2 separate regions of the Homo sapiens genome follow, and region 1 is linked to region 2. Evidence: fine-mapped expression QTL. A gene starts in region 2. The other region holds a variant in brackets. All regions are shown on one strand. Distances are between the middles of the regions. Region 1 overlaps ONECUT3 (one cut homeobox 3). Region 2 holds the start of ONECUT3 (one cut homeobox 3).

Region 1 (4,374 bases), 27 kb before region 2:
GGAAGAAGAAGCACCAGCCACAGGGGCAGGTGTCCTCCCAGGAAGTACAGCTCCCCCCTACACCTAGCTCATCATTTTCTATGGATAGACAATCCGCTCTTCATCCAGAAAACCAACCTGCCCTCCCCAAATATGTGCTCACCAGCAGCAACAGGCTATCTGAGTCTTTCCAAGAGCAATTGCCAAGGGCACAGGAGAGGTCATTGTCACCCAAGCAGAGGCCACCTTCTCCTGAGAAGTTGCTGTTGACCAAGGAGAGGTCACATTCTTTTCAGGAGAAATCACTGTTGCACAGAGAAAGCCAGCTGTCGTCATTTGAGAGCCAGCCACAGCCTCTGGGGAGCCAGTCATTTCTTTCAGGCCAGCTGACGTTGGAGAGCCAGCCAGACTCCTCGGAGGAGAAGTCAGCATTTTTGAAGCCCTCCACACCGTTCCGGAAGAGCTGGCAAAAGGAGCCTCACACCCCCAAGGAGGGGACGGTGCCACTTCCAGACAAGACCCACAAATCTCAGGTGGAGACTCTGCCACCAAGTCTGGAAGAATCGTCCACGTCCACGAGCGAGCAGCCTATGGAGGTGGAGCTGTGGCCCGCGGAGAAGCAGTCATCATCATCCATGGAGTGGCTGCTGGTGCCCGGGGAGGAGCAGCTATCCTTGCCCCCAGAGGAGCAGTCATTGCCCTCTGCGGAGGGGACCAGGGTTCAGCAGTGACGTAGCATCTGAATCCCTAGACCCATCTGATGAAGAGGCATCTTCGAGCCCAAAGGAGTCACGCTGGCATATCAGGAAGATGTCCTTCCTGGGAAGAAGAAGCTCCAGCCAGTTCTGCTGCAAGTCAACCAGCATGCAGGGGGCCTTCCTCTAAAGACAAGGACTCCACATGCTTTTCTTTTTCTAATAAACCAGGGTCCATCTGACCCCAGCGCTAATTCAGGCTCCCTCTTTCCCTACACTTTTTTTGTGATGGAATATTCCTTCCCGGTTTTTAAAATCAAAACACTGACCTCTAGTGGTCCAGCCGGGTATTTGCAGGGAAAACTTTCCTTCTTCATGCTGGGGTAAGATAATGTGGGTAAAGCTTCATTGCTCTCAAAAGTTGCTTATTAAAAGCTGTGGCTCCCCCGCTGCCTGACAGCTGGCCCCTCCCAAGAAAGTTTATAAATTCCAGTTCTTGTACCATCTAGCTTCTTCCTCTATCGGGAAGCCCTGGTTTCTCCCATTCAAATACACCTTCATTCACTGGGGCCTCCGTTCACTTTAGACTCCAGAAAGCAATGAGCAGTGATGTCACAGAAGCAGGTCCTGACAAGGTGTGCATCTTGGGGCTTGGTTGACTCAAAGGCGCCAAGCTTTTCCTTCTAAGGCGCCAAGCTTTTCTTTCTGATTCTTTTTTTTTTTTTTTTTTTGAGACGGAGTCTCACTCTGTCGCCCAGGCTGGAGTGCAGTGGCGCGATCTCGGCTCACTGCAAGCTCCACCTTCCGGGTTCACAGCATTCTCCTGCCTCAGCCTCCTGAGTAGCTGGGAATACAGGCGCCCACCACCATGCCTGGCTAATTTTTTGTATTTTTTAGTAGAGACGGGGTTTCACCGTGTTAGCCAGGATGGTCTTGATCTCCTGACCTCGTGATCCGCCTGCCTTGGCCTCCCAAAGTGCTGGGATTACAGGTGTGAGCCACCGCGCCTGGCCTCTTTCTGATTCTTACCATTCCCTGTGGGTGGTGGACTTGTGTGGGTGGTGGAGTTGTGTGGATTGTGGAGGCTCAGAGCTGGCCACTGGCCCAGGAAGAAGACGGGACTCAGAGCAGAGAGGGGCGAGCTGGGTGGAAGCAAAGTCCGTCTTCCCTGCACTCCGGTCCTCCCTCCCCAGCCTCGAGGTGGGCGAGTTCCATTCCCGCCCCCTATCTGTGCCCGACCCGTC[A/G]GCTAACACACACGCCCAGGTGAGTGACTAGAAAATAATTTATTGAAGAAAAACAAATCAACAAACCCAGCACAGCAATGGTTAACAATGACGAGATTTTTTTTTTTTTTTAGCTTTTAAGCCTGTCGCCCAAGGGTGAAGGTGGAAAAGGGCTTCTCTCCCCTGTCCCTGGAGGGGAGGGGACTTTGGAGGGTCCAAGTGGTGTCTCCCCTGAAAGCAGCCCTCAGTTCCAGTCTATTCAAAACACTCAAGGCCGCAGGGCCTCCTGGCTCTTCCGTCACCCCCGGCTGAGCTCATTCCACCAAAACCAGCCCCTGCGTGGTCTGACAGGGCCACGAGGAGGAGCCCCAGGAGTCTACTGGCCTGATTTTGCTTAAACCGCTTGGGGCAGAGAATGTGAAATGGCCCAAGCTCCTGCTGGTGCAAGGAGCATCCTGGCCCCGGCATCATTTCAGATTTGAGGTCAGCTGAGCCCTCAGCCCCAGGCCCAGCCCTCCAGACCAGGGCTTGCTGCTTTATGGGGTGAGAAGCACCCCGTTTAGCTACCCCGCCCCCCCCTACTGGGGCCTGTCCCAAAAGCGGCCCCTCTCATCTCTCCCCTGCCGCCCTCTCCTCCAGCCTCTGTTCCCAAGCTGGCACATCTGTGCCCCTTTCCACCTCCAGGGACTATCTGGGGATGGCTCAGGGACGTGGCCTCATGGCACAAGAGGAGTCAGAGGCAGAGGACATTGTCCCAGAGCCCCCTTTGATGATTTTGGGGAGTCCTCTGTTCTGTAGGCTCCGAAAGTGGGCTGGGAGGGAGGGGTCTCTGCAGGCGTACACCCCCTGCCTCCCGGGCTGGACAGAAAGGCGGACTCATGCCCAGCCCAGGGAGGGAGGCCGAGGCTGTCTGGGTGGAGGTGGGGGGGGAGGGGGTGCTGGTGCCTGCTGTTGGGGCCCTCAGGAGGGTCCTTCAGATCTCAGGAAGTTGGGGCACACTCCCGTCCCCCACCACCCTGGGCAACAAGACAAGAATAGGCTGATTGTCTGTCTCCTCTGAACAAGACACTTGGGAATTCATGCTAGAGTGAAAGCAACCGGGTGATGGGGGGTTGGGGGGGTCTAAGATATCGATGACACCAGAGTGCCCCCAAGAACCAGGAACTGAGGGGGGGACGCTCGGTGGCTCCCGCCTGGCTGGGGCAGGCAGGTGGCATCTCGGGTGGAGATGGACAGGCAGGTGGAGGAGACCCGGCTACTGAGGCTCTGTTCCCGCCCCCTCTACCTGGGGCCCCGTCCACCTGTCCCGGCTGGACACAGTTCCTTAGAAAGGAGGAAAGAAACAGTAACGAAAAACCACTGAACAGCACCGATCAGGCACCAGACACACAGATGCGACACGGAACCGGGCCACGCCCCCCGCCCCCCACCCTGACCACTTTATTACAATTAGCGTCAAGAAAGAGTACATTAGTCATGCACCAACTCAAATTCCATTTTGTCTTTTTTTTTTGCATTTTTCTTCCTTTTTTTTTCTTAAATTACATTTGAACACAGAACACAGAGAATAATAAATACTCTTATAAGACATGACTCCAGAAAACAAGAAACAGAACAAGCCAGAGAACAGAAAGGTATACCTCTGCCTCTCTCTCTCCCTCTCCCTCTCTCTCCCTCTCTCTCTCTCTTGCGCTCGCTCTCTCTCTCTCTTCCTTTCTTTCCTAAAGGACTCATTTAAATAAGAAATCTGTAAACGCCACTGGTCCTTTCTGCCGCAGTCTCTCTCGCGATCACGCTCCCTCTAACTTTCCCTCTGGTCTCCAGCCCTGACATTCAATGCGTCTCCCACGGAACTCGTCAAAGAAACGACATGCCATCGTCTGCAAAATTATAATTTAACGGTATAAAGCTTCAAGTCACGTATTCCAAAAACTAGCTAAGGATTTTTTTTTAATCACATAAACTATACATTAAATATTTTGAGGTATTTCAGAGAAAATTGTCAAAGGCTCGAAGGAATTGTGCTGGAGGTGTTGATCCCTGCATGGAGAACGCATGCTCTTTGGTATGTGACAGCCAAGTGGGCATGCGGGGAGGCAGGAGAGGGCCTGAGGGGCCGGCGGGCAGGTCGGGGATAGAGCCTTCTGTGGGGGTCTGGCCAAGTTTGGGGTGGGGTCCGGAAACAGGTAGGGGTGTGTGTGTGTGTGTGTGTGTGTGTGTGTGTGTGTGTGTGTGTGTGATACGAAGATATCTGAAAAGGATCCAGGAGTCCTGGGCCACTTTATTTATTTTTTTTTGTAGAAGTGGGGTCTTGCTGTGTTGCCCAGGCTGGTCTCAAACTCCTGGCCTCAAGCGATCCTCCTGTCTCGGCCTCCCAAAGTGCTGCTGGGCCACTTCTGTGACCAAGAGGCTTGACCTGATCTGACCACAGTTCAGCATAGCTAAAACATTCCACAACCAGAACGATCCCAAGCCAA
Region 2 (4,374 bases):
CCTTTCTCGCCCTTGTGCTCGGAGAAGCGATCGATCAGGCGCCAGCCGCCGCGGCTATTGTCCCTGTGGCCCGGGTGGACAGCCCCCTCCCCAGCACCACCAGGGAAAGAAACCCCCACCTAGGCCAGGGGCCCTCCTGCACCCTTACACCCCCACCTAGGAAATGGGGGCCTGGCCGGGCTGCCTGTCAGAGGGCAGGTGTGGACTTAGCTGTTGTCAGCTGGGAGGGAGGAGGGAGGAGGGTCCCCAGGGGGCCGGTGGCTGAGTATGAGACAGAGACAGAGGCGGAGAGACCGACAGGGAGAAGAGATAATGAGCAGGAACAAGAGCAAAACGGAGAGCAAGAGAAAAACATAGAGATACCAGTGTGTTCCGACCGAGAGAGGAGAGAAGTGGACATGAGAGACACAAAACCCCAAAGCCAGGCGGGCAGGGGCGCGCGCACCCGAGCCACGACCAAACTGCGCGGGGCGGGCGCCGGGTCGGGGTGTGAAGGCCTCCGGGCGGCGCGGGCCGAGGGTCCCCGGGGCCGCCCCTCCCCCGCCATTCTCGGGTGACCTTTGCCAGCGGCCGGAGGGGAGAGGGAGGGGGTATCGATCGCGGGGCCGAACTACAAAGAAGCGCGCGCTGGGGCAGGTGGGGGGATGAGCGCGGGCTCGGCCTCTGCTGCTGAGCTGCAGGCGCCCGCCGCAACGTCTCGGAGCTCTGTGGCCCGGGGCTGGGGGCTCAACAGCCCCTCTCCACCCACTCTGGAGGAGGGGAGTGGCACCTTAGCCGACAACAGCAGCTCGTTCGGGGACACAGCTCCCCCCAACAGGCGCGCGCTCACACACACACACGCACACACACAATGAGCTTCCCTGAGGGCTGCTTGGGGAGAGGCTCGGAGCCTCCCAGCAGTCTAACAAGGACTAGAGAACCCCTACGCGCTCCCGAAAGGGGCAGAAGCGGCGACCGGGGGGCGGGGAGGCGGCACAATCCCTTTCTCCCTTTTGGCAACGGTACAAACGGGCAGCGGCGCGGATCGCGGTCTAGCTTCCTGATAGGGGGTCCCGGGCTGCCGGGGCGCACGGGCGGGGCTTGGGGCGCTGGCCCCGGGCATCGGCCGCCGCCCCGCTAGGTGCTCGGGAGTCCAGAGCCGGCGCCCCCAGGGTCTGGCCCTGCGCGCCACGCTCCTACCTGCCAAGCGCAGCGCCGACATGCGCTGGAACTCTGGCTCCTGCAGCCACTTCCACATCCTGCGGAAGGTCTCGCGGCCGGATTTGAGCTTGCTCCACGGCTTGGGGTTGCGCAGCAGGTCGGAGAGCGTGCCCTGAGAGCGACACAGGATCCGCTGCGCGAAGATTGCCTGCGGGATGCTGTAGCGCTTCAGCTCCGCCGTGATGCGCTGCGCCACCTCCTTGGTGTTGATCTCCTCGGCCGCTGCGCCCGCGCTGGGGCCGCCGCCGCTCCCGCCGGGGCCGCCGCCTCCCCCGTGCGGCCCGTGCGCCCCGGCCGCCGCCAGCCCGCCCAGCGGCGCCAGCAGCCCCGCGGCGCTCCCGCTGCCCGCTCCGCCGCTGCCTGTGCCGCCGCCGCCTCCGGGCAGCCCGCGGGCCAGTGCGTCCTCCGCGCGTCCCAGCAGCGCGGCGTGCGGCTCGAAGGCGGCGGGCGGCAGCAGCTTGTCCCCAGCCAGGTGGCCTGGCGGGCCGTAGGCGGCCAGCGGCGGGGGTGGTGGCGGCGGCGGGGGCTGCGGGGCGCCGTGCAGCGCGGGCGGCAGCGCGTTGGGCAGCGGCGACAGCGGCGACCCCATGGCGGGCAGCTCCTTGCCGTAGGGTCCGTAGAGGTGGCCCACGGAGGCGAGCGCCGCCCGCTCGTCGCGCATGAGGGTGAAGCTGCCGCTCACGCTGGCCGCCAGACGCTGCGGCGGGGGTGGCGGGGGCGGCGCGGCCGCCGGGTGCGGGTGCGCGTGGGGATGGCCGCCGTGCGCCCCGGCCACGGCCGCGGCCGCCGCGTGCTGGTGGAACTTGTCGGCCACGGCCGCGAGCGGCGGCAGGTGCTGCAGGGGCGTGAGCGTCGTGTAGGTGCCGCCCAGGCCCGGCGCCTCGCAGGCCATGCCCATTGCCGGGTGCAGCGGGCCCGCCAGTTCCCCGCGGAAGTCCGCGCCGCCGCCCGCGCTGCCCGCGCCGCCCGCGCCCCCGGCGCCCCCACCGCCGCCGCCGCCGCCGCCGTCCAGCAGGCTCGCCATGCCGGCCACCAGGCCCGGGCGCCCGGGCGCCACCAGGCCGCGGTGCTGCGCCGCCGCCGAGCGCGCGTGGCCCGGGCTCAGCAGCTCGCCCGCCTGCGCGTGGGCCACGCTGTGCAGGCCCCCCAGGCTCTCCAGGCTCAGCTCCATGCTCGGCTGCCCTCCCGCCGCGCGCGCTCCTCAGCGCCGGCCCCTAGTGCTCAAGGCCGCTGCATGACTCCCGCCCGCTCCCCGGTGGCTGCGCGCGAGGCTGCCAGGCTGCGCGGCGCACGGCCCGGCCCGGCTGCGAGCGCGGCCACCAGGATGTGGCAGGGGAGCGGCCGCCGGCGCCCGGGCCCGGGTCTGACGTCAGCGCCCCCGCCCACCCGCTCCTGCCACCGCTGCCTCCCGCAGCCTCGCTCTCCGCCCGCCCCGGCCCCACTCGAGCACCAAGCAGGCCGAAGTCGGCCAGACTTGGGGCTTCGGCGTCCCTGGCCACTGCGCCCGCCCGCGCCCGCTGGGGCAGGCCGTACCCGGGGGACAGCGGGCGGGGGTCCGAGGACAGACTCTGCCCAGGTGGGGCTGGGGGCCTCGACCCAGAGTCTCCGATTTCGCGTCTCTGTGTGATTCTCTCCAGAGTCCCAGATGTGGCTTTCTGCCTGGCACCCCCAAGTCCATCTCCAGGGAGTTTCTGGGAGTGTGGCTGGACGGTCGCCTGTAATGTACGTGTCCCCCCCCCCCCCCGTTCCCTACAGACCCCCAGGAGCTAGATCCCCACTGCAAGCTCAGCTTCCCCCGACTCCCACTCACACCTACGGAGTCACAGCCCCCTTCCCACAACCTCTTTGTGGAGGAAGTGGGGGAAAAGGGAGGTCCTAAGGCTAGGTCAGGGCCTCCGTGCGCCCCAGGGGTCAGCCTCTGCCCATGTGTGGGCACCTGGGCCTCCGTTTCCCCAACTGTACAATGGGCTGCCCGGCCTCGGGGTTGCCAAAGGCCCCTTCTAATTGCAGGGCCTTTTTACAGTGCGGCCGCTGGAGGCACTGGAGCCTGGGGGTGACCACTAAGAGCCCCTGTCACCCTCCAGCCCACGGAGGCTGAGGCTGGATCCCCTGTCTTCTGAGACGTCGCTGGTGCAAACTCCTCTTTGTCCCTGGGGCTTCTCTTCAATGTGGGGGGAGGCAGGGGTCTCCTTTTTCTCAGCACCTGGAGACAGGTGAGCCCCAGGGGCCCCTGGGAACTGGGATAGATGGGGGAAGGGCTCCTATAATCAGAGAGACCCCCAGGGGACTAGATCCCGCCAGTGGGGTAAGGTCAGGGCTGCGGATCTGGAGGGGCCAGACCAGAATCTAGAGGATGCTCTGTCTTGTAGGCCAGAGGCTACGGTGCAGAGTCCAAAACCAGCCTCAGCCCCTTCCTGCTTCCCCGTTGCCTCTGCCCCCCCCACCCCCGGGGTAACGCTTGTGCACTTTCTAGAAGAGGAAGGGGATGGGTCAGGCAGTCGGTTCGCGGGAGCCCCCAGTTACCCCCATCTCAGAGGGTTGCATCAGGGCTCAAAGCTGAAGGAAGAGGGGAGGACACAGTCAGGCTGTCACTTCCCCTTTGGTGCAAACCTTCTGGGCAAACCCCGGCCCCAGCTTTGCACCTGCATCCAGATTTCCTGGCCCCTGTAGACGTGGCTACACATTGGAGATGCGATTTTCTGAACCAAGACTAGGTTGGCTCTGGAATAGGGCCCTTTCTGTGCCTCAGTTTCCCCTTCTCTGGTGTGGGAGGGGGTGCCCTCCAGCCTGCCCAGCTGGGAGCCGGAGGTGAGTCTATGCTGACCACAACAGCCAGAGAGAGAGGGGGCCTGAATGATCTGGGCCCCCAGCCTGAGGTGGCCTGATCCAAGTCCTGGGGAGGGATAGGGCTGAAGGGGACCCCTGTTAGTACTCGCTGCTTAGGGCTCGGCATTTAGTAAGTGCCTGTTATTTACCAGGCATACTCTCCTCTCTCAGCCCCAGAGAGGGGGAAGTCAAATCACAATTTTTCCGGGTGTCTCTGGCCCAAGGTGGGGGGGTGGTGGCCCTAGAGTTCCCCCCTTCATTCCTACATCTGCCCAAGTGCTAACTCCTGCCCCCTGAAGTGTCGGTCCCTAAACTTTCCAGTTCCAGGGTTCAGGTATAATTTCTGGA

Evidence for each region. PIP is the estimated chance that this variant, and not a neighbour inherited with it, causes the effect.
Region 1: its variant is fine-mapped to the expression of ONECUT3 in testis (GTEx, PIP above 0.99).

The regions. Positions count from the first base shown.
Region 1 is chr19:1,778,629-1,783,002 of GRCh38, reverse strand. ONECUT3 (one cut homeobox 3) reads right to left here. Exons shown (of 2, transcript NM_001080488.2): 2 at 2,015-4,374. ATP8B3 (ATPase phospholipid transporting 8B3) reads left to right here. Exons shown (of 29, transcript NM_138813.4): 29 at 1-928. Among named protein-coding and RNA genes, the nearest start is that of ONECUT3, 27 kb to the right of the region's middle. The variant A/G (reference allele first, on the strand shown) is at 1,919.
Region 2 is chr19:1,751,660-1,756,033 of GRCh38, reverse strand. ONECUT3 (one cut homeobox 3) reads right to left here and starts at 2,528. Exons shown (of 2, transcript NM_001080488.2): 1 at 1,180-2,528. The coding sequence starts at 2,371.